Regions from separate parts of the Homo sapiens genome. Here regions 2, 3, 4 and 5 are each reported to be linked to region 1. The links are microRNA targets in miRTarBase. Many come from high-throughput screens and were not tested one by one. Region 1 holds a microRNA gene; each other region holds the end of a gene's coding sequence.

Region 1 (6,382 bases):
ACACAAAAGATTAGTATTTCAGCCTCCATTATCCTTTCCACCCCTTTCATCTGAGGGTGTTTACTGAGATAATGAGAGTCAAAGTCACACTCATGTGAGGGTGTTTAGGGTGGTAATAAGAGTCATAGTCACTTAGGCCCCTAACAATAGCTGATAAACAGCAGGAGCTAAGAAAACAGCAGATGCAAAGTTGTGCTTCCATTTTTAGATACAGTTGATCTTCTTTACTCATGGACTCCCTATTTGTAAATTATCTTACTTGCTAAAATTTACATGTAACCCCAAAATCTAACACTCAAGGTGTGCTAAATAACCTTTGTTCAGGCATGAGTTATAGTGATATTTGGCTGTGGCTTCACTGTTAATGGATCAATATATATTTTAAAAGGTGTTTTAAACAGAAACACACATAAAACAAGGTTATACATTGATCAGTTGGTGAAAATGTTGTGACCAGAGGGTGTCAGGAACCTAGCTCTGTATTCTCCCTAGACCATGCAATACAACGACCACGAATAATGAGAACTGACTATATTTTATTTGCTGCTCAACCTTTACTTGACAGCTATGGTCCCCAACAATGTAGACTATATATCCATCAGAAAAGAAAATATAGCTGGGCACAGTGGCTTGCACCTATAATCCCAGCTACTCAGAAAACTGAGGTGGAAGGATCACTTGACCCCAGGAGTGTAAGGTTGCAGCAAGCTATGATGGCACCCCTGCACTCCAGCCTGGGCAACATAGCCAGACTCTATCTCTAAAAAATAAATAAATAAACAAACAAACAAAATAAAGACATATAAAAACCTACTTTATTGTTTTTTTGTGTGTGGGTTTTTTTTTTTTTTTTTTGAGATGGAGTTTCACTGTGCACCCAGGCTGGAGTGCAGTGGCGCAATCTCAGCTCACCACAACCTCCGCCTCCTGGGTTCAAGCAATTCTCCTGCCTCAGCCTCCCGAGTAGCTGGGATTACAGGCATGCACCACCACACTCGGCTAATTTTTGTATTTTTAGTAGAGACAGGGTTTCACCATGTTGGCCAGGCTGGTCTCGAACTCCTGACTTCAAGTGTGATCCACCCACCTCGGCCTCCCAAAGTGCTGGGATTACAGGTGTGAGCCACTGCGCCTGGCCTAAAAACCTACTTTATTGTTAAAGAGTATGTCAGCAGAGGCTTAACCAAGTGGGGAGGGGATAGTGGGTACAAACTGACTTCTCTCTCCTGCATCAATTATCTCCTTTAATCTTTATAATAATTCTATGAAGTACGCTTTGTCATTCTCATTTTACAGATGAGGACAAGACAGCCCTGAGTGGTTAAAATATGTATTAAAAGTCAAACACTAGGAAGTGGTGAAGGTGAACTTCAAATAAGGGAATGCCTAACTTACTGAACCACACCTCTGACCCATATGATGGGCACTGCTGCCTCACTGGGCCGTTTGGCTCTGGGAACAATGTGGCTCTCCGGCTGCCCATGAGAAACCTAAACCTAACACAAACACATTAACTCCGGGGTTTCCAAGACTGAAATTTCCTTTTACCCGCTCTACCCCCCAGCCAAATATATTAGAGATTTGTAACCAGAATATGTCAACTGAGTCATCAAAACCTTATTAGAGAATTTAGAAGGTATCAGTATAGTTTCTTTATCCAAGAAAAGCACGTACATAAGTTCTACCCAAAAAGAACGAAACCAAATAGAAAAATTTGCCCATGATTACACATCTAAAATTTGTCAGAATTAATGTACTGATAAATATGTTGTAATTAAAATATATGATTAATATATTCCAGTTACATTTTCTCAAGTCTGTTGGAAAATATATGTGAAGTATTAGGTTGGCACAAAAGCAACTGAGGTTCTTGCCATTGAAAATAAAGGCCAAAACCACAATTACTTTTGCGCCAACCTAAATATATAGTCTGAAATGGAATAATAAATAGTATTAAATAATTAATAGTACCAAGCACAATGTCTTTCATAAAGTAGGCATTCGACAAGTTTACCAAACACATAGACCTATATATTCTACTTCGGTCATATCTAAGTATATTTTATTACTCTGAGTAGACCATTAAACACACACACACACACACCTTCCTCCCAAAATTCACTAGGCGAAACATCTAAAGGTAGGCAAAGAATACTATTTAGTATTTTGGTCATAAAATGTTTTCTGAAAGAAATGAGAATCTTTAAAACTGTGCTTAAGGAGCTACAGGATGAAAAATGCAAATACCTGTGAACACATAGACACACATTCGCCAGAATAAACAAAATCTGCTCAACCACCAAGGCCAATGTCTAGAATTTGTAAATATCCAAATGCGACACTTCATTTTATAAGTAAAAAAGACATGACAAGTAAAAGGGCAAGTAACAATTTATTCAGAAATTAAATATCAGCATTCATGGATTTGGCCTAATAGGACTAGCATAAGTTTGGTCCAATTTCCTATATATGCACTGATGATCCTAACAATGATCTGGAGTTGATGAAGAACTCCAGTGTGATATATGAATGGTATGATGTAAATGTAAGTATACTATATGAGAAAGTGAAAACTTATTAACCCCTATGGAAACTTCTAGTTAACTAAAATAATTCATTCTCTAATAATTTCGCATAAATAGGAATTTACCCTGTTATTTTACTAAAATTATCAATTTTATTGATAATTTAAATATTAGTAATGCACTTTATAGATGAAATGTTTTACTTTCCAACTTCCTCAAACTTTGGTATAGAGATGGTACATGTAAATAAGGAAATACAGAATTAGCAATTAAAAAAATCAAAGTACTATCTCCTTTACAATTAAATGAGGTAGCACATGGTAGCCAAGTCTAAAATATCCAAATCCCACATATGATTGTTAATCACTAAGTCTTGTTTTTCCATGTACTATAGATCCTTTGATAGTTTCAGCTTCCATTTGCATCTCAAGATAATAGTGTAAGATACAGGATAAAAAATTCATATATTCAACTTCACTACTTTTTATACATTCTCGTTGAAGTTTTGGTAGAAAAGAAAGATGTAATCCTTGGTGAAATAAGGTTACAAATGACAGTTGTTCACTGATGTAATTTAGTTAAAAGTTAAGAATCAGAGATTTTCTAAAATTTTTGCTTGGTCTTAAAGGTTAAGCATACCAAAATACAACTGGCAATCTCCAACTTGCAAATATCATTGTTTCAAAAATTCATTTTTATATATTAATTGATTGGCAGCCAAAGAATATTTTCCAATATTTTGAAGGACCATTAACTCTCTAGGTCAATCTAAAAAGCCCCCTATGGTTTAGACCACACTTGACATATAAAATATAAACCTAATAGTTTGATATGATTCCCCCATATCAAACTACCATTTATAACATTGTTTTTCTTTATTTTTATTTTTTAAAAAGTAGAGATGGGATCTCAATGTTGCTGTTTTTATTTATCTATTTATCTAATCCTGAAATCAGTTAGTGATTGTCTCCCATAGGTGTCTATCTCCAAAAAAGGGACATGGGGCACCAATTCTGACATTTACTTAATGTCCTTTACATTCTGAAGTGGGCTGCAGGATAGAAACTTCCTGTGGTGAATAAAAAGAATGGCGTTACGAACTCCCGTCATTCACATCCTTTCCATTTCATGGCATAATATTCAAATTTATTTGAATGCTTATGAAGATTTTCTTTAAAAAAAAAAACTCACAAGATCAATTGAAAGGGCAAAATAACAGTATTTTATCAATACTCCCCTGGCCCCCATTACCTCCTATTTTCTTCCACAAACTAATTAGCTTTATAGACCCAGGTTATTCTTCATTCCCATCTCACATTTAAGAGATACAAAATTTTCAAAAATATCACAATTTTAAAAGTTAAAGTATAGGGAACTTATTAATTAAAATGAAGAAATTACTCCAGTCACATATTCCTGCTGAATCTTTATCTTTCATAACACTTTTTAAGACTGGTGATTAGAGGCTAGCAAAGGATTTTCATAAACTAAACAGATAGTGAATCAATAAAAACTGGAAAACTTGCAATTTACTGTGTTTAGGAATGGGGTCTAAGCAACAATCTAATCAAGAATGAAAGCAGTCAAAAGAAAGACATTTAAAATAACCACAGTAGTAATTTTCACACCAAGTATGGCAGTCTCTAAGTTAATGTTATTTTAAATACGTTTCAGTTTGGAATGACTAAACCTGTTAATAAAAACATGAAAATATTATGACATTTAGCTGACAGCACACACAATAAACCTCTGTTACAAAGTGACCAAGTCATAGTATACAAAATATACAACCTATAAACCCAGAAAGTTCCACAGTAAGTATACAGAGGAGACACAGGTTGGTTTCACCCTTATCAAAAATTTGATTCAGATGGTAAGTAAAACATGGTTCCAACATGGAAAAACAATAACTCTGTGGTCTCTTATTGAATAAGTAATATTAGAAAGAAGGTAGACACAGGGAAAAGAGGCCTGTTAGTGTGGCCACCCCCACCTAGACCAATCTAGAGAGCTGAATGTGAGTCCAGGTTGAGTAATCTTCAAATGGCACCGAGCCCTCACACCTTCTATACTTATAAAATGAGAGGGTCAGCCTGGTCACAGTCTAAAGTCTAAACCTTTAATCTTTTTTTTTTTTTTTTTTTTTTTGAGATAGAGTCTTGCTCTGTCACTCAGGCTGGAGTGCAGTGGCATGATCTCAACTGCAACCTCCGCCTCCTGGGTTCAAGCAATTCTTGTGCCTCAGCCTCCCAAGTAGCTGGGATTACAAGCACCCACCACCACACCAGCTAATTTTTTGTATTTTTTGTAAAGACGGGATTTCACCATGTTGGCCAGGCTGGTCTCGAACTCATGGCCTCAAGTGATCTGCCTGCCTTGGCCTCCCAAAGTGCTGGGACTGTAGGCATGAGCCAGGGCACCCAACCTAAACCTTTAACCTTTAACTCTAAATCTTTAACTCTAAAGGAAGTCCCTTTATAAGTTTGTGACCAGTTAATTAACAGGATACTATGCTTTTGTGTCCATTAGTAAAATGCAACAAATTAATCCAAACCACTCCACTATGACTAAAAGATTACATCCAAGCCACTGCATAACAGCATGGCAAAGCTACAATGTAACAAAGAAAAAGAGATGCTGCATTTGGCATGTACTAGTGCTAAGGTGAAACACAGCCAATTGCTATGTTTTATGAGGCCACTTACCATTCTTGTTCAAAGACTCAAGTCATAAGCAATATAGAATTATTATGAAAGAGTATCTAGATAATTCAAACAAACCAATTAGTGAAAAATCATTTATTTCATGTACAGAAAATAGTATTATTTGAAAAATTCACTGGTTTTGGTGTTATATAAACACATTCTGGTTTTGGATATAGTAAAAGCAGAGTTAGTATAAAATGACTGATCACAAGGCTTTTTTATATTTGCTAAGAAACTAGTATATTAATTACCTACATTCTGAAGTGTCAAATACTTATAATGTAGACAAAGAACATTATATTTGTATTTTTTACATCAAAAATACATTAAGAAATAAAATAGCTTTTTGAAGCAGTTTAAAGGGCAGTCAATAAACATTTACATATTTAGGAATAATTTAACTCAGCTGAAATGATCTATCATTAACCCAGAAGAGTAGCAGATACAATTCCTAAAAAGTACTGTCTTTCTCTGCTGTATAACAAAATTACTTGCTGTATCATTATGACCACCATCTTCTTCAGTAAATACTTATTAAGCTTTGGTACTATGTGCAAACCATTCATATTAAGGTTACATGTAATAAAAGATACAGTCCCTAGAGCTGAGAACCTTACAGTCAAATTATGAAAACAAAGTATATTTATAAACACAATAAACAGTATTTGCAAGTTTGCATTATTAAGTATCAAGTAAGAGGTACCAACAATCAATGCTAACGCACAGCAAGGAAAGCCCAACAAGGGTAGCTGGTCAGGACAGTTTTAGTAGAAGAGCCATAAGCTGGGTATTAAATAAGAGGACTTGATGCTAAGCACAGAAAACACAAAATAAACTACTTCCTGCTGTTTGGGAACTTACACTGTACCATATATTACTTATGTCTATACTAGTTAAGTGATAAACAGACTCTGTATCAAAAGTGCAATCAACTAAAGAGGGATTTGATAAGCAGCTAACATAACAAGGTATTAAAAGGGAAGTTTCTGCTGAGAACCAGAGACGATAGAAATGACATTCCAAAGCAGCTGCCAGAACATTCTCGAAAATGTCAAGAGGCAGTCTAAAGAAGAGTGCTGAGATGTGTTACTTTCCACCCCCACCACTAGTGAGGTGGTGCTTCAAGAAGATTACAGAGTAGGTTTCAGAGAT
Region 2 (6,382 bases), not on the chromosome of region 1:
TCTTGAGGCTGAGCACCTTTTTTTTTTGTTTTTGTTTAATCACATGGATTATGGAAAGAAGTGGGGCCCAGATGAGGAGGAGTCTAGGTGTAACAAATTGGAATAAAATATTTCCATTTTCTTTCAACTGGATTTGGCTAATCACTTTTGTATCAGGTTAAATTGTAAGAAACCCCCAGGGCAGGTACTTAATAACTCAGTAGTTCTTGGCTGAGGACCCTTACTCCCAATTCTTCAAACCCACCCACCACCCTGCACACGATTGGAGTTTGTGAGCTCTGCTTGATGGATAGCTACTCTGGTAGCCTGCTTCTGAGGGTAGACAGTTTTTAGTTGTGTGTTTTCATTAGTTCTAGATTTTTCCTTTTAGTCACTATCTTCCCAATAAACAGTCATATTTATGTGACTGTCATGTCATATGAACCTAGCAGCCCTTTGAAACTCTTCTTCTATGTCCTAATACTTCATAATTTTATATTAATGAATCTCAAGTATTTAAAGTAAAACTGATGTTAAAGTTTGTGATAATAGCAACCAGAGTTGCTATTAATTGTGTATCTTTATTTTATATGTTAAACTTTTGCAGCTGGAATAACTGATTTCCTGGAGTATTCTGGCTATATAATTCATACTAGGTTGTAATCAATAATGTTCTTTATACCACCACCCCACTATCCCAAACTCAATTCCACCCCTACCCTACCCACCCTCCTACCTCCCTACCCTTCCAACAATCCCACCCTCCCCACAGCCCCACCCTACTCTAGCCTCTCCCACTCTCCCTACTCTCTCAGCCTTCCCCACCCTACCCCACCCCATTCCCTTGATGCTGGTAGATGCTGAAATGATCAGGACACAGTTTGCACTTAACCACTAAATCTTTATTGAATTTTTATTGTAACAGCAATGCAATATTAGCAAATAGAGAGAAATATAGAGTGAAGAGAATACAGCAATAAAGTTAGAAGGAGGGGTAGGGGCAATGGGGTTCAGTGGTAGGAGGAGGGCTACTGACAGGGGTAAAAGCAAGGGTTTTTATTTATCACTTTTATAACTTCCATGAAAATTTACCATCCATCATTGACAAGTTCATTCTAGCAGTAATTTATCAGAGGTCACTCATCCTCTATTAAATTATTAATCTAATCACCTTTGAACTTTCTCCCACTGGGGTTTTTATCCATGTCCAATTCGCTCTAAATAAGTTGGTCTCCCTGCAGTTCCCTCCGAGTTTATTTGAAATCTTTAAGGATAGCAATTATAGGGTAAAGGGTTACAAGTAAGTACGCATGTCCACTTATAGCGATATCTAATACATAATATTATTCTAACATTCTAAATAACCCCACCCACTTAAAATTACTTAATAGTCCCTCCCACCCTAAAATGCTTATGATTATATATCCCCTATTACTTAAACTTGATTACACAAAGAAATAAAAGCAATGCAATTTTCCACAGACCAATTCAATACCATTCTACAATCTAAAACAACAAAGAACTTTCAGTCTCATCAGATGTGCATTCTCTCTTTAGATGAAAATGTAGCATGGTTCCCGCAGGGCTCTCCATTTCTGCCCAGGTCTTTCCAGCAGGTTGTTCTCTGTTGTCAATCTTGGAACTGTCTGTATCTGATGTGAGATGTCTGTGGTGGATGACAACTGGATCAATTCAGAAGTCCAAGAGGTACCTACAAACTTAAACAGAATTCCAGACTGCACCATATAGATGTGGCCCTCTTATTTTGTGCACCTGCAAGTTCACTGTATTACTTCACGATTTGATCAGACTAATTCTCCTTTTTTCCACTAAGACAAATACCTCACTGTCCAAACTAAATTGACCCTTCATAAATGTATGTAAACTTTCTGTGTTTCAATATCCTAGCATGATAAATTTAGCTAGTTCTCTCTAGGCTTGCCTATCAATGGGAGCTCTTAGATCTTCTTCCTTCTTGATTTAATTAACAATGTAAATTTGGGCTAAAAGTCAATTAATTAATTTTGCCAGTTTGAAAAACTCGACTACTGATTTGCTTACTAATTCATCTATCTCCTTTATGTTTTTTATTTTGCTCCCTTTCTAACTTCTTTAGATATCAAATTCCATTGATTTTTTTCCTTTCTTATGAATAAAGCCATTTTTGTTGGAAAATGCCAAAAAAAATTTAAAGGATCCAATTAACATAAATTTGATTAACAACAAAATAAATCAATTGAGTGAAAGGAAACTTAACCAAACTTCAAAACTATAGAATAATAAATTTAGAATTACTTATCCTTAACATCTACATTTATAGATAGCATATATAGCAATAGAGCATAGTACACACTGCCAAAAAGTTAATCACAAGCTTTAGTAAACAGCCAAATGTGGATCAGGGACTTTCTGAGTTGTTAACCCACAGCAGCATATTTTCCCTAATCGTTCTTGTCGTTGGTGAACTTCTCCAGACTTTTGCTTGCAGTGGTGGCAAATGTCCGTGTGCACATGCCAGGGCTACAGACAACGGCCCATTTCTAGGCACCCTGCAGCTTGAAGATCAATTGACAACTGTAAATTTGACAAAAAAACAACTTGAATTCAAATGTATGGAGGATGAATTGATACTTGAGGTAAACAGAAGTGACTCTTCAAAATAGTTCAGAAGCACAAATGCACCATTTTAAAAGTAATTACTCTAAAACACATGAGTGATTGACAAGCTTTCTGATTCCATTGAAGGAAAAAAAAAGTTGTTTTGGATTAAATAGCCAATTAGGTTTCTCTTTTCAAATTTTATATCCTTTTATATGATTTTTAAAGGCCCAATTGATAGAATTGAAATTATATATGATGTTAAAATTGAAGATGAACAGGATGAATTATTATACAAATGCTCCAGTTCTGAGGAGCCTCTCATTCACAGCATTGTAAGAAGTTCACAGTAAAGGAATATTTTACACTATGTTACTTATCATTTTTACTTAGTTTAACAATAAGAACTGGATAGTGCTTTGTAATTCAATGGAAGTTTTTGAAAGCCTAGTCACCACTTCAAAACACACTAAAAATTATACTAAAAATTTTAAGTGTTTAAACATGCAAGAATAAGAGCAGATGATAATGAACATGTGAAAGATGATGCTGATGAAAAGTGAAACTTCACCGTTAGACTCCTCTTCATGTCAGGCAATTTGAGATATACACCATGTTGTTTTCTACTGCTCAAACTGTGCTTTGGCAATTAAAGCCTGCCTCTTACATCTCTGTGTGTGGCAGCAAAATGGAGTCTCAGCAACCAGGCAGGAAAATGACACAAATCCTGCAGCAGGGTCAATGGCAGTAGCAAAGAATTAAACAGAAAAAGAGAGGTTAGATAAAACAGTTCAAGGTAGTAGCAAGGGACCAGGCTAAAGGAAGTCAGGCAGTCCCAGGTTAGCACAAAGCTTCCAGGGGACATCAGAGGTGTCACTGGGCTGAAGACAACTCTTGTGTTGTCCGTTGCTTTGAGTCCTTTGAGTTGCTTTCTGAGGCTTTTCATCCATTGGCAGCTTCACATCAGCTCCATCCTCTAGAGGGACCTTTTTCATTACGTGGATTCTGATCCTTTTGAAGTGGTTACCATCAAGTAATGTGGAGCTCACTAAGGAAGTCCACATCCTCAAGACAGTGTCCACAGCCCTAATTCCTCTTCTTCAAAGATGTCCCCCTTCCAGGCATAGGAGTGTGAATCTGGGTGCTAAATCATTTCTCCTCTCTCCACACATCCTAATGCTACAGTCTAATGAGGGGACTGAAGATGAAATGCCCAGATGCATATGGAGGCAGACACATGGATAGATTCTTCCAAAACGTCAGCTGGTGCTTTTCCAGCCAATTAAGAACACTCATGAAAATTCTTTCTGAAGTACCAGGACAAATCTCTTAAGAGTTGGGTATGGGATTTTGGAGTCCTTTTGATGTGCTACTCTTTAGCCCTCAAAGGTGATTGAGAGGTGGTCACATTTCATGAACATCTAACAACGCTGGAGCCACCAGTAATCTCTGGTTACCAGGTTTAATGCTTTGTGGAAGCCATCATGGCATGATGATGGTAAGGTGTTGTGTCAAAGCCGGAGTCATTGGGTACATGTGATTTGCACCATGATGTGAAGACATAGTCTTAACATGCAAGAGTCCATCTGAGAGAGCACTTTCTTTTCAGGCCTGAGATGTTTCATGTCACAAGGGTTTTTCCTGCTCCTGGGAGAACCAGTCGAGTTGCTGCTCCTTGAGAATTAACAGAACCATGGAAATGGAGTTTGAAGACGGTGAAGTTTCTAAGGGTGCAGCGAGAGGATCACGGAAGCCTTTCCACACTGCACCGATAATTTTGGCTTCCTTAATAAGGCCTCAGTCCTCCAGTGATTTAAAAAGAGGGTACCGAAACCGCAAGAAAAGTCATGTCCTCCTCCTCCTCGTCTCCCCCTCCATAAAGAAATCAGCATTTCCTGCGTTTGTATCAGCTTCTCTGTAAATGTTAAACAGCAAATTTGGCAGCCTATAATTTAGATGGTGATGGAGGTTTTGGCAGGTAAAACCCAGACTTCCAGGACTGGCTGGAAAGTAAACTTATTAATTATTTTAGTTAGATTGGCAGTCAAGGTGGAAAAATGAGAGATCATTTATTGGCAAATACTCTGTTGCTCTCAGAAAATGTTGAAGGTCTTTTGGTGCTTTAGGATGTGTGCCAGTCCAGAGTGGCCCTAACCTTCCATAGCCGTTTCAGAGAGGATGTGCCTCAGGTGGCCTGAAGATACAGTAGCCTAAAATTTAGCACACAGTCACTGATTGAGAAGCTGAACAGGAATAAATTTTGAGGGCAGAGATCCTGAAGGACATGACAGGTATTTACAGGGTACTGTAAGATGGAGGCGGCGGCGGTGGTGGTGGTGGAGGCGGCGGCTGTGGCGGCGGGTACTGTGGTACCGGAGGCTGGCGGTACCAGTGTGGATTCCAAGTGATCATCACAGGTACATATAGTGATCTTCCTTGTCCGTCTCGTCCCACTGGGTACCAGGCGAATCCTACTGGGTAGGTCGGGTACGCGGCATATGTGGGGTATGTTTGGTATCCAGGTATTTGAGGTACGAATTCAGTGTACGTTGCCAGGTGTGCTTGGTCTTCTAAATTTGGAATAGATAGGCGAGGATACTGATTCTGGATAGTAAAATTGTTTGGAGCTCGGCAATCATAAGAAACTTGCAGTTTCCACCCCCTCTTCACCTGGAGAACTTGGGCTCCATTAGGTGCAATCGTTGGAGTAATTAGCCCATCTTTTACATTTCTTGCCACAAAATCTCGAAGAGCTGCCATTTCAGGTTCGGACAGTGAATACACATGTCCACTGGGAATACTGTGTGCTCCAGGTATCATTTCTATGTGAGGGTCAACCAGGCGGTGATCTGGGTAGACGTGCTCATCTACTGGAGTGTACACATTCTGGACATAGTAATACCTCACTGGTTGGTAAACTCTGTATCCATCTACTGGATAATAGAGTGGCGGTTGTGGTGCTGGTGGTGGGAGCGATGGTGGTATTGGAGAATACATCCGGCAGTGGTAGCGGCAGTATTCAGAATCAAAGACGATAGATCGAGTGCTCCATGTGATATTGGGATCATGTGTGCTCAGCCAGCGAACCCCTAGGACGACAGGGAAGAATGGAGACTGAGTCACATCAAATGACAGCACCTCTCGGTGATCTCCCAGGTCAACTATCAGGTCGTGAGTTTCGTGGACAACTGGGCCCGATGCTATGGGGCGCCCATCAATTGCTTCCACAAGTATTGGCCAGTCCTTGATTCTTAGAGGAATTCCATTTTGAGCAACATATTCGTGATCAATGAAGTTGCCAGAAGCACCAGAATCGATCATGGCTCGGACGAACAGGGTGTGTCTGCCCGGAAGATGAATCTGGAGCATCACTTGCAAGTGTGGAGATGAGGCATCATCTTGTGGGGACCTTATTATTTCTGGCCCGGTCGCTGAAGGTCCCTCTACAGCGGGGCCGGGGAGTTTCCCGCCGGCGAAGACTTTGAGGCCTTGGCAGGACAATTGTCAGCGTAGTGACCTCCTGTTCCACAGTAGAGGCACAGGTTCAGCTTTCTGCGTCTTTCTTTTTCTTCCTGCGTCAGGCGCATGCGGGCACCTCCCACCGGCTCGGTTGGATCTACCTGGTGGTGGCTTGCAATGTGAGGCAACACCAGCGCCCGGGGTGGCGAGCGTGGCTTGCGAGCTGCAGCAGCCCTGGCCAGCCTTCTCTCAATGTGAATGCACTGCCCAATCAGAGCAGACAGCGACTTGGCGACCTCGAGGTGGGAGAGCTCCTCCTGAATGTGGTCGCTGAGGCCCTCGTGGT
Region 3 (6,382 bases), not on the chromosome of region 1:
AAACAAAACATGTCCGTTTTAGTCCCAGCTAATTTTGCTTCCCCCATTAAGTACCAGTTTCCACTTTCTTTGTTCCATGTCAGAAATACTTCATTTTTCTAATAATACATAGATCCTCTGAATAAAACTTAGTAAAAGTGAACATTTTTAAGATGACATTACTAATTGATAATATTGCTTGGCTATGTTCAATTCTCCAGACAACCCAGTTCTTCAGATTGAAAGAGACCTGAAGTAACAATGAAATTACCATAGTGTTCTTTCTCCTGCCATATCAGGCACAAACTTTCCTTATGCTGAAACATGGAATACACTGAATAAAAAGTCCTTTGGTTAATTTAGGGTAGAATGTATTATAAAAACCAGAATAGCTGAAATATGGCTTACAGATTTCAGAGATATTTGTATAGAACTTGAAGCAAAGTAATTGGTCACATTTTAGTTATTTGAAATTGGTGGCATTACATCCGGGTGAGGTGAGAAGGGGGTCCAAAACCTAGTTTCATACTAATTTTAGTCATTCAAAGTTACTCAAAGACAGGGAAAAGAAACAAAAAACCTACTCAGTCTCTTTCCATTCTTATTAGTCACCTGAAGCATTCTGACCTTTGATGTTACTAACAATTCTCCTCTACAGCAGTATGGGATAATTCAGGCTAAACTGCTTACAAACACTAACTGTTAAACTGTCAAGTTGGCATTAAAATTGACACCTTTGCTGGCTTAGAAACTGTCTAAATGAAACCAGTACTGTTTAAGAAAGCAATTGGACTATTCTACAAGACAGCTTTCTTGTCTCAAATGCCTGAATACCTTAAAGTACTGGCAAATGACTATATTATCATTACCTTTAGTATGAAGAAAATGTAAGTCTATAAAAGACTATAAAATAATTACATTTATTAAATTAGAGAGTTTAAAACAAGAATGTGGTTAACATTCTTAGGCAATTTAGATCTAGAATCCTTTAAAAAAGCTTACTATGAAATTAATGGTGAAACTGCCTTTTGTTGAATACAGTCAAAGAAGACTAGTGTTATAAATATGACTTTGTGAATACATGAGTAATACTTTCCAAACAGATGTTTCTAAAACAGACTGTTTCTTATCAGCTATAAAACAATCTGGTTCCTCTGTTTCCCATTTACAAATTACAGGATTTCTGGAATTCTTAGTAAAAACACACAGGCAGAGACAGGGCACGAAACACCGCTGCTCACAGAGTAAAGAGTTATAATCCCTGCAGGTCTCTTGATCCAATGGGTTCTGGTCTCTCTGTCACTGACTTTTTCTTCTGAATAGCCCACATTATTATTTTATTTTGTTTTGTTTTTTTGAGATGGAGTCTCGCTCTGTCACCCAGACTGAAGTGTAGTGGCAGTATCTCGGCTCACTGCAACCTCCGCCTCCTGGGTTCAAGCGATTCTTCTGCCTCAGCCTCCCGAGTAGCTGGGACTACAGGCATGGGCGTGCACCACCACGCCCGGCTAATTTTTGTATTTTTAGTAGAGACGGAGTTTCACCACATTGGCCAGGCTGGCCTCGAACTCCTGACCTCGTGATCTGCCTGCCTCAGCCTCCTAAAGTGCTGGGATTATAGGCATAGTCCGCATTATTTAACTGACTGGTTCTAAGGATAAGTTCTGATTTCAAAGGATACAAATAAATAGAGCTAGAAGTTCTATTTTTGCCCTTGCAATTCTGGTCAGAAAACTATGGAGAGGATAGCCACATAAAGAATTCTTGCAGCACAGCCACGAAAGGTTTCCCCCAAATTATTTTGTGATAACAGCAAACCTGCCTCCTTCAAAACCTCTTACTCTCTACCACTCTTCAATTACCCTTCAATAACACTACCCTACCTGGTCTTTAAAAAAAAAAAAGGAAAAGAAAAAAAAAGGCAACACTGCTGCCAGGAACACAGAAAATGCATTGAAGACTTGTAACATAACCTCCAGTTTGCATCCCCAAACCAAAAACCTTTTGGTTCCTTCCTTACTAAAGTCTCCATGATGATGTAAGCCTTCACAAGTCTGCAACTACAGAACCAAATACAAGGTCAAAAAATATGTAGACCAAAGCCATGTAGCTTCTCTGCTTAGCCACATTCACAGATAAAATGTAAACATAAATACTATCTTCACTATGGTTTAGATTTTAACCAGGAAAAAAAATGAAGACAAAATCTGGAAATTTCTGGACAAAACAAAAAGCAACTAAAATACAGGTTTCATGTTTAAGTAAAACTGAAAATAAATTTGTCTCAATGTTTTCCAAGAAAGAGATGATTAATTTATGTAAACACTGCCTTATAATAGTTAAAACAATAAGTTATACCTAACTTACATTTTTCTCAAAACATATATGAGCAAGTGCAAGGCTGAAAAGTTATTTTACAATCCCCATTGCAGTCTGTTGTTAGGTCTCTCAATGTCAATAGCTCTGCAAAGTTAGTTACATTTATTTTTCTATTTGGTCTTAGAATAGAATTTATATGAAGGAAAGAAGACTGAGGTTAATAGCTATTTAAGTTTTTGTTATTGATTGATTGATTGATTGAGGCAGGGTCTCACTCTGTCCCCAAGGCTGGAGTGCAGTGGCATGATTACAGCTCACTGTAGCCTCAACCTCCTTGGGCTCAAGTGATCCTTCTGCCTCAGCCTCCCATGTAGCTGGGACCACAGGCATGCATCACCACGCCCAGCTAATTTTCTAAACAACTTTTTGTGGGGATGAGGTCTCACTTTGTTGCCCAGGCTGGTCTCTTTTACCTGAGCTCAAGTGATCCTCCTGCCTTAGCCTCCCAAAGTGCTGCGATTACAGGCATTAGACACTGCACCCACTCTAATTTGTTTTGTTTTGTTTTGTTTCGTTTTGAGATGGAGTCTCACTCTGTCACCTAGGCTGGAGTGCAGTGGAGTGATCTCAGCTCAATGCAAACTCCACCTCCTGGGTTCAAGTGTTTCTTGTTCCTCAGTCTCCCAAGTAGCTGGGATTACAAGTGCGTGCCACCATGCCCAGCTAATTTTTGTAGTTTTAGTAGAGATGAGGTTTCACCATATTGGCCAGGCTAATCTCGAACTCCTGACCTCAAGCCATCCGCCTGCCTTGGCCTCCCAAAGTGCTGGGATTACAGGCGTGAGCCATTGCACCCAGCCATGTTTTTAAGAGAATGGGTCTTGCTACCTTGCCCGGGCTGGAATGCAGTGGTTATTCATAGGCGTTATAACACACTCTAGTTTCTAACTCCTGGCCTCAAGCAATCCTCCTGCCTCAGCCTCCTCAGAACCTGGGACTATAGCCTTGCACCACTGCACTCGGCTTAACATTTTAGCATTAATGTTGCCATACAGTTTTTTGAACCCTTTCCCAAAAGCCAACATCACTGCCTCCCTAGCTAAATTCAGTCTGTTCTGTCACGTAGAAAAATAACAGTAACATATCTTTTTACCTGAAGGGTCAAACCACTCTAACTGGCATAGGAAACATCCTTTATTTTTCATGATTATGCAACTTCTTTACATGAGATGTTGGCATTTTGTTCCTAGCATGTAACAGAATCAGTGATTTAAGATATCAGATTCTGAGTTGTGAGATTTAAAAGCATAAAAGTTGAATTGCCTTGCAGCATTTCTCAAGTGAGAAATACAAAAATGATGTTCACAGCAGACCCAAATTGGGGTCATTCAGCACTAGCTGAGACTTGTTTGCATAATTTCCTTTCCTACCCAATTCATTCAGGCTCCTATGTAGCTTATACAGGGGTGGGAATATGACTCAAAGTGCAAAAATAAAATATTTCACCCAGATAAGGAAGGAGCAAGCTTCTGCTATGTGGCCTAATTGCAGGCCTCAGAATGCCAGCACCTTTTCTAAGTTTTTGTTTTAAAATGGAATGTAAAAACTACATAATTAATATTCCAAGCAGCTTAAGCTCATTAGTTGGGAGTTTAAATTCCAATTCCATAACCATCCTACTGTCATAACTACTGTAAAAAAATCATTAAAAATAAAGTAACAAATGTTATCATAGATGTGAAATTACTTAAAGTACTAAATTTCTAGTGTTGTAAATAGCAGCTAAGTTATATCACTTCCTGACTGCCAAATTAAGACTAAATAGAAAGAATGTATATACACCATTATATTTAAAAGTAAAAAACAACGAAACTTTTTCATATCCAAGTATGTCTGAGACTGTTTACTTCCAACAGCCAAGAATGATAAATTTCAAAAACCAAAAAGTTATATTTTGCGTGCTGTAAGTTTCTTTTCAGGAGAAAACAATTCTTTGCATGCATACCTCCCTACTTAACGGCATTAAGAACTTTATCTAACATCTGGTAAAACACTCCTATTTGGCTCATTTAATAACACCATTAAAAAAGCATAAAATTGAACTGTCATCTAACAACTATAGCACAAAGAAGTTATTCTGGGTACCTATACCACTAACATTAAGCCCATTTATTTTTATGGATGCAGCCATTTTTCCCTCATGAATACTCACTGAGGGTCACACTGGCACTGCATCTTTTGTTGCATCTTTGGTGAAATATGCCAGCCCTACATTTGCATTAATGAGGAGACCAATGGCATCCTAGCCAGTACTCTGTCACGTCATCTATGGCCTCTTTCATTCTCTTCTTATTTCAGGCATCCTGGTATGCTCAGTATATTTAAAGATGGTTCAGAAGGCAAAAACTCTTTGTCAGTAAAACAGATCATGTCCCAGGGTTGCATTTTTTAAAATGAAACAAAGATTAGTCCAAAGAACAAGTACTGTCACTTGTTAGGGTTTCTTCTTCTAAAGGTAATAAGGAGCTTCAAAACATATTATTTCTTGACTAGAGCCCTACTGGAAATCAATGAAAATTCCTCAACCAGCAAACTGCTCAAGTTGACTTGTTTAAAGTTCAATAAGCAAATACTCAACAGGTAAGGGTACAGCCTGACTTCAATCACAACATTAAGTCTTCCTAAAGAGAAGGGGCAGAAAACATCTACTTAAGCTTTCTGTTCAAATAGCTACATAAGGACTCTTGATTGTTCTTTCTTGCTTTTTATAATCATAACTTTGCTCAGAACAGAAAACTTTACTTTGTCAACACATAAGCCAGGCATCTAAGAACAACCTAGGGGGAGAACGCAAAGTTACTCATTTTCAACAACTATTATATATTTAATCACAAATTCATTAGAAAGATAGTATTCATCCAATTAGTCTTTTCATTATTGCTGGTTTTGAAAATGGCCAACAATATTCATTAGGTACTGTGCCATTAACATTGCATTCAAAAAAAGAGAACATGGGAAACCAAATCCTTGCTCTCCTACTCTGCTGATATGCTCTGGTATTGGCCAGAGTATGGTAGTACAAAAAGAGTCTTGTTGTTATATAAAAAGCAATAAACACATCAATAGAATAATGTTCATGGGCAGCCAAGATGAAGAAGATTCCAAAGAGGTTGAGAACCCAGGATAAAGTGTGCAAGAAATTCCAGCTTCTTGGTGTATCTAGGAAAAGGACAGAAAGATCATTTTAAAGCTACATTCCTTCCAATGCTTCTCAGTCACGTTTCTCAGGTCAGGCTGTTTTGCCATTCTTCACAGGATCTGACACCCTTCCCACAGCCTTCACTGCAGCTAGTTACCTAATACGCATAGAAGCACTAAAAAGATACTTACATTCGGTGACAAAGAAATTCAGCATAGTTAGGACGACTGTGTGGCCACTAAACATGTAATCTCCACATGTGTGAACGCCAGTCAGGGTCATACCAAAGCCACTCCAAATGGCAAAGGCTCGATGTAATTTCTCCCATACACTGCCATATATCTATGAAGAAAAGTTATGAATTAGTGCTTCAAATGCTTAGGGAGGTGGGAACTTCCCAACATCCATTCCTATTGAAATTCAAATGCTGAATAACTTAGAAATAAGATCTAAGCCAAAGCATCTAGGCCTTCAGTCTAATGAATTCCAGCCAGACTTCAAGAATGGGTGGGCAAAGCTTGGCTGTACTCAGAAATATTTTGGTAATTAAATGAAATCAGACTGGGCACAGTGGCTCATGCCTGTAATCCCAGCACTTTGGGAGGCTGAGGTGGGTGGATCACCTGATGTCAGGAGTTCAACATCAGCCTGGCCAACATGGCGAAACCCCAACTCTACTAAAAATACAAAAATTAGCCAGGCATGGTGGTGCACACCTATAATCCCAGCTACTAGGGAGGCTAAGGCAGGAGAATCACTTGAACCTGGGAGGCGGAGGTTGCAGGGAGCCGAGATCGCGCCACTGTACTCCAGCCTGGGCGACACAGTAAGACTCTGTCTCAAAAAAATTGATTAATTAATTAAAAATAAATAAATAAATAAATA
Region 4 (6,382 bases), not on the chromosome of region 1:
CGAGGCAGGCAGATCGCCTGAGGTCAGGAGTTCAAGACCAGCCTAGGCAACATGGCAAAACCCTGTCTCTACTAAAAATACAAAATTAGCCAGGCATGGTGGTGTGTGCCTGTAATCCCAGTTACTCGGGAGGCTGAGGTAAGAGAATCGCTTGAACCTAGGAGGCAGAGGTTGCAGTGAGTCGAGATCACGCCACAACACTCCAGCCTGGGTGACAGAGTGGGGCTCCGTCTAAAAAAAAAAAAAAAAACCACAAAAGAAATTATTTTCAAGTGGAAACAAAACAACAGAAATTAAACTTGCAAGGACTAAGAAAGGAAGGGTGATCAATTTAAAGCTACAGGTTCTACAACAGAATAACCTCAATGTATGCTGAGCTAAGTATGATGAACAGGGGAGCTGGCTATTTTTCTAGATCTTTAAACAACTCTGCGTCAGATATAAAGTTTGCTAAAATATCTTAAGTCTGCCATGGTTTGAAACATATACCTGTCAAATTTGCAGAAACATTTTTAATTTATTTTATTTATTTATTTATTTTTGTGAAACAGGGTCTCACTCCATTGTGCAGGCTGGAGTGCAGTGGCCCGATCCCAGCTCACGGCAACCTCCACCTCCCAAGTCCAAGCGATTCTCCCACCTCAGCCTCCTGAGCAGCCAGGACCACAGGCATGCCCTGCCATTCTGGGCTAATTTTTGTATTTTGTAATTTTGTAGTACAGATGGGTGTCTCACCATGCCGGCCAGGCTGGTTTTGAATTCCCGACCTCAAGCGATCCACCCACCCCAGCCTCCCAAAGTGCTGGGACCACAGGCGTGAGCCACTGCATCTGGCCCAAATTTGCAGAAATATTTTTAAAATGTGCAGTCCATTTCAGAGAGCCATTAGCATTTTCATTTTCATTATGTAGTTTTTATTTTAGACGAACATTATTATAAAAAAAAAGTTCACCTGGAATAAAATCCATTTAAAAAAAACATAGCATCAGTATCAGTACACAGTTAATGAATTGGCTTAAACAAGATTAACCACATGACAGGTCCACTTATCTGCAGGAGCTTTTCACATTAAGCCATTGGAGCAAAAATAAAATATGTTTAAACATGTACAGTAGGATAGTTATATGGAAAAACTAGAGAGTTTCCATTAGGGGCATGATTTTCATCAAACAGTTTATGGTATTTTGCATGAAAGGAACTGCAGTGTCAGCTGCAAACAAAATAAAAGCCATCTGTAAGGCCATAAAATTGAACTATAATAACTAAATTCACATTTTAAAAAAAGGTAAAGTGAAATAAGTTCTATTAGTTTCTTGGCACAAGAAATGCAATTGCATATGGCACACGCATTTCAAGAAATGAAGTAAAATCTGAAAATATCCCTAGAATAATTGTTTGCTAATTTTTATTTCTGTACATTTCAGTCATTTAGATTTTTTTCAGAGTGAACATGACAGCCATTAATTTTATTAGTCTAAAAAAATGACTTATTCTACTCTAAAATTGTGCTAGAATTTGAAATTATTTTAGCATATCCTGTCCGTCTAGGTCCCTCTATATCAAGGGATTTCATTTTTAGACATTCCTTTCCACCCACCCCTGTGCCCCCCTTGGATGTAACAAGGAAAAAGGAATGTCTCTTCTGTTTAAAAAAAAAAAATTCTGAGAAACCTGATTGCAGAAATGAGTGCTTAAAATTTATAATAATTAACCAACATAATGAAATGTGGTTTTTAAAGATTGAGAACTAAATTTGTAAAGGAATCTAAGTCATGAACTTGAAAAGAATGTCTGCTTAAATGTGTCACTTACTGATCACAGGAAAAACTTTATAAGCCTTAATATAGACTCTGAGCATTCAGAACCTGTAAAATGGAGTTATAATCTCTTACTAGAAACTTCTGCAAAAACGCACCTATATTGCACAGCTAAATTTATTAATGGAGACAGGGAGATAATACTTTTTTTATGCTACTGGATATGACATGTATGCTCTATCCTAAACTAATATTTCCTACCTTTCCCAATGATGTCTTCAGTTCAAAACAAAACAAAGAGTCTAAATTTTGTTAGATGCTTAAAGGCTGGCTCACTGTTTTTCTACCAGGTATTAGAATACTAGTTAGCTAAATGAGGTATAATTAAAAAATAGACCTTCAAAGTAAAGAGTATAGTCTTCTGAAAATTTATAACAAAGACTGCACAAAATGTTTCTGTAAATAGTAAGAAACCCTGCAGCACCTACTAACTGATGCACAGGTAGATTATTGTATCATAATCTGTCTGAAGTAAAATATAGCTAAAATAAGTTCCCAGCGAAACGTTTTACAATCAACTGATTTACATGCTACTTAGTTACAGCACATTTTCACTGTCTGATACCCTCAGACTCTATTTGAAAAGGTCTAGTCCAATCACTGTCAAAAATTAACACACTGATTAATAAAGTGCAGCCACTGAACCACTAATACTGCTGCAAAAATCTTCATGTACCTTATCCATAAGACCACAAAAATGTTCACAAAAAAACTAGATTTCTTCAGTTTCAGCGGGGAACAGACAATTATCTGTCATTAAATTCATCTACAAATAGAAAAAATAATGCACTGTATGTACATTATTAAGCAAAGTGGAATATTTATTGGGTCATTTTATCATGCAGAAAGTGAATTTCCTAAGGTCTTAGCTCAATGTATATACAATCTAGCAAAGCTAAATGTAAGAAAATAGCAAGGACAATTTATTTCTATATAACAGAGCATATACTCCCAATTTGCTGCTACTTCAAAGAGCACTTTTAGACTCATCTAACTTTTACAGGCTCTTTCAAGTGAAGTTCATGGAGACTAGTTATTAATCCATATAAGACAAAAGAAGAAAGAAGAAATATAACCAAAGCAAAGCATTCTGTTAAAAAAAAAAGTAATAAAAGCTAACCACAGAATATGTCAGTTTTGGTTTGCAGACAACCCCTGAGATTATATAAACCAAAGCGTTAAGACACCAAATAGTCAGAGGTAAATTACTAAGAGAATTACATTCATACATGGTGTCATAGCACTTATCTTTTAGAAGGTACTTTGTTACCATCCAGAAAGCGTTAACTGCTTGGATTTTTTCAGGAAATAGTGAATATTAAGATGTTTCTAAAAAATTATCTTTTCCTTTTGAAAATGTATCTAATTTGAAGATAGTAGAATTACAATAAACTTTCAATCACGGAACTACTAATTATACTAGAACAGCAACGAATGACTTTTAAGCCTATAGGTAATTACCAAAAAAAAAAAAATTAAGGAGGCTGAAATTTGTCAACAATAAGTTTAGTATATCTATTAAAAATAGCTTGGGCATATTTGCAGCTGCTAAATTGTTCCTATATTTTCAAATAAGTACAAAAGATTGACTGGTCCAAGCATTCTAATGACATATCTTAATTTGAAGAGAATTCTCTGTGGTAACAAGCAATCCCTTTCCACTGCCATCTCCTGTTCTTATCTATCCAGCATGATAGTAGCCTTTGTGAAGCAAAACAGGCATACCAGGAAGAATAATTATTAACAGAATTCATTTCCCTCATCCCCTCTGTTTTATCCCCCCTGTGTTATGACACTGAAGGCTAGAGCAACAACGACATAGTGATCTGAATTTGGCACACAAGTTAACACTAAATACCTTGTGATGGTTTCATCTACAAAAGTATACCAGTACCAGTGTTTGTTGAGAAAGGCAACTAAGCTTTTGGTTGGCTTTAGCCCAAATGACTGGACTAAGTTCTGTAACAATGAACCAAAACAGATGGAACTGGGTTCTACACAATCAACAACAGCTGTTTGAAAACTGAAACCTTGGTCCTGTTTTCTCTAATGAAAAGGCAAGACTTTTCCTAGAGGCTGCACTAGGTCTAAGTACTTTTATTTCTAAAAACATCTGCCAAATAAAACCAACCAAAACTCATTATTTTCACCATTACCAAGAGCTAGCTCTATTAAATTTATATCAACAAGTTAATCTGTCTCTATATAGGGAAGGTTTCCGCAAACTAAAATCTAAACCTAACTTTTGTAGACAGGGATTATGGTAGGAATTTGGTATTACAACTAAACCAGCCAGCTAAGGAGTGAACCTAAGAAAAAATATATTACATATCCTTATTGACAGAATCACAGTTAGATGCTGCACTAAAACCCTAAATGGTATATCTCTCAGCCCACGTAAAATTTCAGCTCAAGAAGTTCACAAATAGAAACAGATAATAATGTTCAAATATTACTTAAGAGTGATTACACTTAAGTCAAACATGGGAAAGAATAGCAAATACAAACCCCAGGGAAAAATGAGATTATGGTGATTTCCAAATGCAGTTTCTATAGATTAGGCAGAGGTAATCATTTTAAAGTGATTCATTCAGCTACCCAGACTCTGGAAAACAGGTCGGGGATGAGGCAAAGCTCTTAATCTGAAGAAATAAAGAAATTGTGGCCTTTGATGACAAGATGGGCATTTCAGTAAATTTTTTTAATGACTTTAATGATTCTTATTTAAGAAAAAGCCCTTAAATAAATGCTACCAAGGCAGTAATATTTGACCATATGAACCAGACCAAATACCCTTTAATTTTAGTATATTAACCTCTGCTGTAAATGCTCTTTTAACATTGCCACATGTACAAATTTGTCTAGAACTTCACGACACAAAAGTGTGCAAATATGAGTCTAAGATTGTGCTGAAATAGGGAAAGGCTAACACTGATGTGCAAAGTAAAAAAGAAAGATAACCGCTTCTGCAACAGGTAATAAAACAAGGAAAAAACGAGTTAGGTCCTGCATGTGTCTCCACTTCATTGCTTCCATGTTTGAAAAAGGGAGTCTGTTCTTTTGCTAGGCCATGAGGCTGGAATCCACTTGGCATACTGTGTTGAGAGGTCTAAGTTCAGTGGTGCTCTCAGCAGCAGCCGGGAGGTGTGATTCTGAGGCTGGGTGACCTGTGCTTTCAGAGAAGCAGGAAAGGGCCCTCTAGGTGTGCTGCAGTCTCTCAGAAAGAGTTCATCAAAGTAGCGAGCAACGAAAGAAACTGGTCTTCTTTGATCGGTTTTCTGTTATTTTCACTGGTCCACCTGCTCCTGCTGAATTGCTGTCATTCTAAAAAATAGAAGATGAAGTTACCAAGGAAATAAAAGTTTCATGGTTTGACCTCAGTTACCTAAAAAATAAAAATAACTAACCATACCATGTGAAATGTGTATTCTAGTGAAATGTGTATTCACTAGAGTATTTTATTAGAACGGGAACTAGTTAAGCACCAATGTTGTCTTTTTCTTTGGAAATGGTGAATTGAAAAGAGGAAAATGCCCTTACGATAGCAGCTTTTATATCAATAATGTATTCAATAGGAAGCTTCTATTTCTAGTTCCAATGGAGTGTAAAGTTTCAAAGGTAATGATGGAAACAATGTTAAGATACTGGCATAGACAGTTCTGTTAGAGGTAAGAAGAGTTAGTAGCATAAGGTACGCAATTATAGTCAGGACTCAGGATAAAACAAACTTTCAAGGTTGTCTTAATGATTTCAAATTTAAGCAAACTTTAGCAACTTCAAAATCGTAGTTATGCAGATATAAATACCTGTCACATGAAAACTGAATAATTTTATGGCAAAAATCGAATTTGTGCCATTATTATTTTCATTATTCTCATCAAAATTCAATTAAAGATCACTTAAAGAGCCAGAAGAAAGGACTGAAACAGTGGCAGCTCAGAAATAAGAATCCTAAACAAACAGAACTAAGAATCAGAGTTCAACCAAATGAGTATCTGAGTCAGGAAAAAAATGAGTTTAATTTGAGTATCTTATAATTAGACCTATCCTTTTCATCAAATGCCAAACAGACAGCATAATGGAAATAAAAATTATAAGTGATACAAACCATTTTTCTGTTGAGTTTTGTCATTATATCTCGTGCAAGTGTAAAAAATGCCTATAGGTAAAACAAAACATTTTCATTATTATATATTCACTATATATATGTATATATATATATATACACATATATATATTCCCCCCGCCTCAGAGATGGGGTCTTGCTATGTTGCCCTGGCTGAATTGGAACTCCTGGGCTCAGGCAATCCTCCCACCTCAGTCTCCTAAGTAGCTGGGACTACAGGTGTGAGCCACCATGCCTGACTTATTTTAAAACAGAAATACAGAATTTTTCATTATTTCAATATAAATATACCACTTTAAAGCTTTACATTAAGAAAGTAATAATTGTAATCATAGTATGCATGTGTTTACTCTTTTGAGATTGTATCATAAACATTTTCCAATGTTATCAAACTATCATTCATTCATCAAATATTTTCTTCATGTGATATAATATCACA
Region 5 (6,382 bases), not on the chromosome of region 1:
GCTCTGTGGCCAAGTAAGTTTGGGAAACCTAGAAGCAAGGCTAGGAAGATGGATTTATTCAAAGCCCTCTGGGAAGGCTTGTTTTGCTGTTAGGAAGGTGCATCTCCTAAGGGTAGAATAAAGTATTCTTGCAGTCTTTCTATTTTAGTGTTTCCCAAAGTATATTTAAGGCCAAGGTAGGTCTATACCACTCATGTTTATGTTTAGTCTTATTATGGTGGTGCTTATCTGGAAGACAGGGTAGTGATGCTGTCGTGTTGTGTACTTGTTCTTTCTCCCGCTGCTGCATATAATTTTTCAAGGGCTTTTTTATTTTTTTCATGACTCCTTTAGTGCTCAGCACATAATAGCAATCAAGCTGTTATTGGATATCTGAACAATGTTGAAGCAAAAGTAAACTTGGCATTGTTATTTTGTTATCTGTGAGTTGTTTGACCTGATATAAATTCTAGGTATCAGTTTAGGTCAGTCAGGAGCGCTTTTCTTTCCCTGTGCATTTCTCTGTGCTCATATGATACAGCCCTGATGTTAGCTTTTCAAAAAGGACTTTGTTATCTCTGTGTGTTTCCACTAGGTGATACTATCAACCAAAGCACCCTGCCCTCACAGCAGAACCGTTTCCCAGACTACCTTGAAGCCATTCCTGGGACAAATGTGGACCTTGGAACACTGGAAGGAGATGGAATGAACATAGAAGGAGAGGAGCTGATGCCAAGTCTGCAGGAAGCTTTGAGTTCTGACATCCTTAATGACATGGAGTCTGTTTTGGCTGCCACCAAGCTAGATAAAGAAAGCTTTCTTACATGGTTATAGAGCCCTCAGGCAGACTGAATTCTAAATCTGTGAAGGATCTAAGGAGACACATGCACCGGAAATTTCCATAAGCCAGTTGCAGTTTTCAGGCTAATACAGAAAAAGATGAACAAACGTCCAGCAAGATACTTTAATCCTCTATTTTGCTCTTCCTTGTCCATTGCTGCTGTTAATGTATTGCTGACCTCTTTCACAGTTGGCTCTAAAGAATCAAAAGAAAAAAACTTTTTATTTCTTTTGCTATTAAAACTACTGTTCATTTTGGGGGCTGGGGGAAGTGAGCCTGTTTGGATGATGGATGCCATTCCTTTTGCCCAGTTAAATGTTCACCAATCATTTTAACTAAATACTCAGACTTAGAAGTCAGATGCTTCATGTCACAGCATTTAGTTTGTTCAACAGTTGTTTCTTCAGCTTCCTTTGTCCAGTGGAAAAACATGATTTACTGGTCTGACAAGCCAAAAATGTTATATCTGATATTAAATACTTAATGCTGATTTGAAGAGATAGCTGAAACCAAGGCTGAAGACTGTTTTACTTTCAGTATTTTCTTTTCCTCCTAGTGCTATCATTAGTCACATAATGACCTTGATTTTATTTTAGGAGCTTATAAGGCATGAGACAATTTCCATATAAATATATTAATTATTGCCACATACTCTAATATAGATTTTGGTGGATAATTTTGTGGGTGTGCATTTTGTTCTGTTTTGTTGGGTTTTTTGTTTTTTTTGTTTTTGGCAGGGTCGGTGGGGGGGTTGGTTGGTTGGTTGGTTTTGTCGGAACCTAGGCAAATGACCATATTAGTGAATCTGTTAATAGTTGTAGCTTGGGATGGTTATTGTAGTTGTTTTGGTAAAATCTTCATTTCCTGGTTTTTTTTACCACCTTATTTAAATCTCGATTATCTGCTCTCTCTTTTATATACATACACACACCCAAACATAACATTTATAATAGTGTGGTAGTGGAATGTATCCTTTTTTAGGTTTCCCTGCTTTCCAGTTAATTTTTAAAATGGTAGCGCTTTGTATGCATTTAGAATACATGACTAGTAGTTTATATTTCACTGGTAGTTTAAATCTGGTTGGGGCAGTCTGCAGATGTTTGAAGTAGTTTAGTGTTCTAGAAAGAGCTATTACTGTGGATAGTGCCTAGGGGAGTGCTCCACGCCCTCTGGGCATACGGTAGATATTATCTGATGAATTGGAAAGGAGCAAACCAGAAATGGCTTTATTTTCTCCCTTGGACTAATTTTTAAGTCTCGATTGGAATTCAGTGAGTAGGTTCATAATGTGCATGACAGAAATAAGCTTTATAGTGGTTTACCTTCATTTAGCTTTGGAAGTTTTCTTTGCCTTAGTTTTGGAAGTAAATTCTAGTTTGTAGTTCTCATTTGTAATGAACACATTAACGACTAGATTAAAATATTGCCTTCAAGATTGTTCTTACTTACAAGACTTGCTCCTACTTCTATGCTGAAAATTGACCCTGGATAGAATACTATAAGGTTTTGAGTTAGCTGGAAAAGTGATCAGATTAATAAATGTATATTGGTAGTTGAATTTAGCAAAGAAATAGAGATAATCATGATTATACCTTTATTTTTACAGGAAGAGATGATGTAACTAGAGTATGTGTCTACAGGAGTAATAATGGTTTCCAAAGAGTATTTTTTAAAGGAACAAAACGAGCATGAATTAACTCTTCAATATAAGCTATGAAGTAATAGTTGGTTGTGAATTAAAGTGGCACCAGCTAGCACCTCTGTGTTTTAAGGGTCTTTCAATGTTTCTAGAATAAGCCCTTATTTTCAAGGGTTCATAACAGGCATAAAATCTCTTCTCCTGGCAAAAGCTGCTATGAAAAGCCTCAGCTTGGGAAGATAGATTTTTTTCCCCCCAATTACAAAATCTAAGTATTTTGGCCCTTCAATTTGGAGGAGGGCAAAAGTTGGAAGTAAGAAGTTTTATTTTAAGTACTTTCAGTGCTCAAAAAAATGCAATCACTGTGTTGTATATAATAGTTCATAGGTTGATCACTCATAATAATTGACTCTAAGGCTTTTATTAAGAAAACAGCAGAAAGATTAAATCTTGAATTAAGTCTGGGGGGAAATGGCCACTGCAGATGGAGTTTTAGAGTAGTAATGAAATTCTACCTAGAATGCAAAATTGGGTATATGAATTACATAGCATGTTGTTGGGATTTTTTTTAATGTGCAGAAGATCAAAGCTACTTGGAAGGAGTGCCTATAATTTGCCAGTAGCCACAGATTAAGATTATATCTTATATATCAGCAGATTAGCTTTAGCTTAGGGGGAGGGTGGGAAAGTTTGGGGGGGGGGTTGTGAAGATTTAGGGGGACCTTGATAGAGAACTTTATAAACTTCTTTCTCTTTAATAAAGACTTGTCTTACACCGTGCTGCCATTAAAGGCAGCTGTTCTAGAGTTTCAGTCACCTAAGTACACCCACAAAACAATATGAATATGGAGATCTTCCTTTACCCCTCAACTTTAATTTGCCCAGTTATACCTCAGTGTTGTAGCAGTACTGTGATACCTGGCACAGTGCTTTGATCTTACGATGCCCTCTGTACTGACCTGAAGGAGACCTAAGAGTCCTTTCCCTTTTTGAGTTTGAATCATAGCCTTGATGTGGTCTCTTGTTTTATGTCCTTGTTCCTAATGTAAAAGTGCTTAACTGCTTCTTGGTTGTATTGGGTAGCATTGGGATAAGATTTTAACTGGGTATTCTTGAATTGCTTTTACAATAAACCAATTTTATAATCTTTAAATTTATCAACTTTTTACATTTGTGTTATTTTCAGTCAGGGCTTCTTAGATCTACTTATGGTTGATGGAGCACATTGATTTGGAGTTTCAGATCTTCCAAAGCACTATTTGTTGTAATAACTTTTCTAAATGTAGTGCCTTTAAAGGAAAAATGAACACAGGGAAGTGACTTTGCTACAAATAATGTTGCTGTGTTAAGTATTCATATTAAATACATGCCTTCTATATGGAACATGGCAGAAAGACTGAAAAATAACAGTAATTAATTGTGTAATTCAGAATTCATACCAATCAGTGTTGAAACTCAAACATTGCAAAAGTGGGTGGCAATATTCAGTGCTTAACACTTTTCTAGCGTTGGTACATCTGAGAAATGAGTGCTCAGGTGGATTTTATCCTCGCAAGCATGTTGTTATAAGAATTGTGGGTGTGCCTATCATAACAATTGTTTTCTGTATCTTGAAAAAGTATTCTCCACATTTTAAATGTTTTATATTAGAGAATTCTTTAATGCACACTTGTCAAATATATATATATAGTACCAATGTTACCTTTTTATTTTTTGTTTTAGATGTAAGAGCATGCTCATATGTTAGGTACTTACATAAATTGTTACATTATTTTTTCTTATGTAATACCTTTTTGTTTGTTTATGTGGTTCAAATATATTCTTTCCTTAAACTCTTCTTTGTTGTTTTTAACAATTGATATTTGAAACTTTTTTTTTTTTTGGCTTCTTACTGGTCTTCCAATAGAACAAGAACTGGCAATAAAAGGTGATTACAGTAGTAACTGGGAAGACAAGTTAAACTTAAGTTTCGTTGTGCTTTAAGTTAGGCTTGACATTTGGAACTTTTGAAGTATGGATATATAATTCTTTTAACTTTGTGTTCTTACTCTTCACATACACCATCCTCATCCGTGGTAGTGTCTAAGCAGAACTGCGTCTGCTTGATTCTTAAATGACTTCACTACATGTGACGGCACAGAGGACACTGAGAACATAAGAACATGGCACTGTCTTTCAGAATGGCCTTTGGTTTTACTTCTTTAATATATTCTCTCAGGCCAGGCGTGGTGGCTCACGCCTGTAATCCCAGCACTTTGGGAAGCCAAGGCAGGCGGATTACCTGAGGTTGGGAGTTCAAGACCAGCCTGACCAACATGGAGAAACCCCGTCTCTACTAAAAATACAAAATTAGCTGGGCGTGGTGTCGCATGCCTGTAATCCCAGCTACTCGGGAGGCTGAGAATATATATATATTCTGTTCTATTTTGGAGGTCATGAGAGAATATTATATATTAGTAAAAAGCATTACTTACTGGCTTATAAATAAAAACATTCACAAATTGAAGTGGTAGGTCCTGACCTTTGAATAAGAAGTAGATTTGAGTATCTTTAAAGATGGCTGGACGTGGTGGCTCACGCCTGTAATTTCAGCATTGTGGGCGGAGGCTGAGGCGGACAGATCACCCGAGGTCAGGAGTTCGACAGCAGCCTAGTCAACATGGTGAAACCCCATCTGTACTAAAAATACAAAAATTAGCTGGGCATGGTGGTGCATGCTTGCAATCCCAGCTACTTGAGAGGCTGAGGTGGGAGGATCACTTGAACCCGTAAGGCAGAGGCTGCGGTAAGCCAAGACCACGCCACTACACTCCAGCCTGCGTGACAGAGCGAGACTCCATCTCAGAAAAAAAAAAAAAAAAGATTGATTTCTGTGTTTGCGTGTATAATAGCTTCAATTATTGACACATCTATTTTGGTGAGGCAAATCTGAAAATGCTTCATATTTTACAATATATAATTTCTTTATGTTAGAACACTAATTTCGTGTAGCTTGAAATTGATTATTTCCTTTTTGTAGTTCAGATATAGTGGTGGTACATCTTGGCTCAAAACCATACCTTGTGTCTGTAGACACTGTGCTTGTTGCTCCACGGTGGTACACTTTTTGTCAGATGGTGTGAAGCCCAGTAATGTGAATCTGCCTTCATTCTGGATCTCTGAACCAGAATTGTACCATCTTTAGTTAACTCTGAGTTTAACAGAATACTCAGAAAAATGTATTTAGATTTGGGAATAGCCTCTAACGAGAACAAGGAGGAACATTCCAAATACTTGAGAAGTATAGTAGTCATACTTAAAACATGATTTACATAATGTTTTTCTTAGACCCCAAATTAAAGTTCAACAGCTCAGTAAGTGAATTGCTCAGCTGCAATAAGCAAGAAAACAGTCTTCCAGAGGGAGGGGGAGGGGGAGAGAGATCAGTAACTACTAGTGAAAGGAAACCTAGGTGACTACTGCAGAAGTGATCGGTAGACTGGGGGTTTTGTTTAATTCCCCAACCCCGATTTCCATTTCTTGACAGCTGAGGTTACAAAAGAAAGGCAGCCCCAAGGAGCTGATGATGTTTTCTTACCTTCTCTAATGGCAGCCAGACTCTCCCTGCTTCTGTAATCATCAGTTTTACTGACAGAAAACCTGGCTTTATTGCGGGTAAATTCCTGGCTCCGGGGTTCCACATGTGCTAACGCTGTTGGAATCAACAGTAGCTCTGGCAGGATGTCTGCCATGTCATCCCTATTCAACTTTAAACTGTTGGCACTTAGTCTTTTTTAGCCATGAGAACTTTGTGATAAATCTTTTTTGATTTAAAGCTTAACTACTAAATTAAAATTCAGATGAGAAGTCGGTGACATTTAGTACTACAGTTTTTCCAAGTCACACATAAAATATGTTTTGCTACCTTGAACACAAAAAGCTCT

Evidence for each region. The annotated mature microRNA hsa-miR-548b-5p reads AAAAGUAAUUGUGGUUUUGGCC and lies in region 1 at 1,888-1,909, opposite strand. An mRNA with a match to its seed (bases 2 to 7 or 8) in the 3' UTR can be bound and repressed. Matches are read on the target gene's strand: a 7mer-m8 pairs with bases 2 to 8, a 7mer-A1 pairs with bases 2 to 7 and ends in A, and an 8mer does both.
Region 2: the mRNA of PEG10 is a reported target of hsa-miR-548b-5p. Seed matches in the 3' UTR shown: 7mer-m8 at 4,585-4,591 and 7mer-m8 at 2,669-2,675.
Region 3: miRTarBase lists SAMD8 as a target of hsa-miR-548b-5p. Seed matches in the 3' UTR shown: 7mer-m8 at 4,152-4,158, 7mer-A1 at 4,047-4,053, 8mer at 4,011-4,018, 7mer-A1 at 816-822 and 7mer-m8 at 421-427.
Region 4: the mRNA of RAB8B is a reported target of hsa-miR-548b-5p. Seed matches in the 3' UTR shown: 7mer-m8 at 4,758-4,764, 7mer-m8 at 2,920-2,926 and 7mer-m8 at 2,159-2,165.
Region 5: the mRNA of YAP1 is a reported target of hsa-miR-548b-5p. Seed matches in the 3' UTR shown: 7mer-A1 at 940-946 and 7mer-m8 at 1,348-1,354.

What each region holds. Positions count from the first base shown.
Region 1 is chr6:119,067,211-119,073,592 of GRCh38, forward strand. It overlaps MIR548B (microRNA 548b), which reads right to left and starts at 1,933; the gene lies at 1,837-1,933. The region is part of intron 1 of FAM184A (family with sequence similarity 184 member A); the gene reads right to left.
Region 2 is chr7:94,664,173-94,670,554 of GRCh38, reverse strand. PEG10 (paternally expressed 10) reads right to left here. Exons shown (of 2, transcript NM_001172437.2): 2 at 860-6,382. The coding sequence ends at 4,873. Among named protein-coding and RNA genes, the nearest start is that of PEG10, 11 kb to the right of the region's middle. RefSeq lists an enhancer at 3,328-3,447.
Region 3 is chr10:75,175,523-75,181,904 of GRCh38, reverse strand. It overlaps SAMD8 (sterile alpha motif domain containing 8), which reads right to left. Exons shown (of 6, transcript NM_001174156.2): 5 at 5,689-5,839; 6 at 1-5,517. The coding sequence ends at 5,213. Among named protein-coding and RNA genes, the nearest start is that of VDAC2, 32 kb to the left of the region's middle.
Region 4 is chr15:63,262,286-63,268,667 of GRCh38, reverse strand. It overlaps RAB8B (RAB8B, member RAS oncogene family), which reads right to left. Exons shown (of 8, transcript NM_016530.3): 7 at 5,926-5,976; 8 at 892-5,141. The coding sequence ends at 5,049. Among named protein-coding and RNA genes, the nearest start is that of APH1B, 12 kb to the left of the region's middle.
Region 5 is chr11:102,229,128-102,235,509 of GRCh38, forward strand. YAP1 (Yes1 associated transcriptional regulator) reads left to right here. Exons shown (of 9, transcript NM_001130145.3): 9 at 575-4,297. The coding sequence ends at 813. Among named protein-coding and RNA genes, the nearest start is that of BIRC3, 85 kb to the right of the region's middle.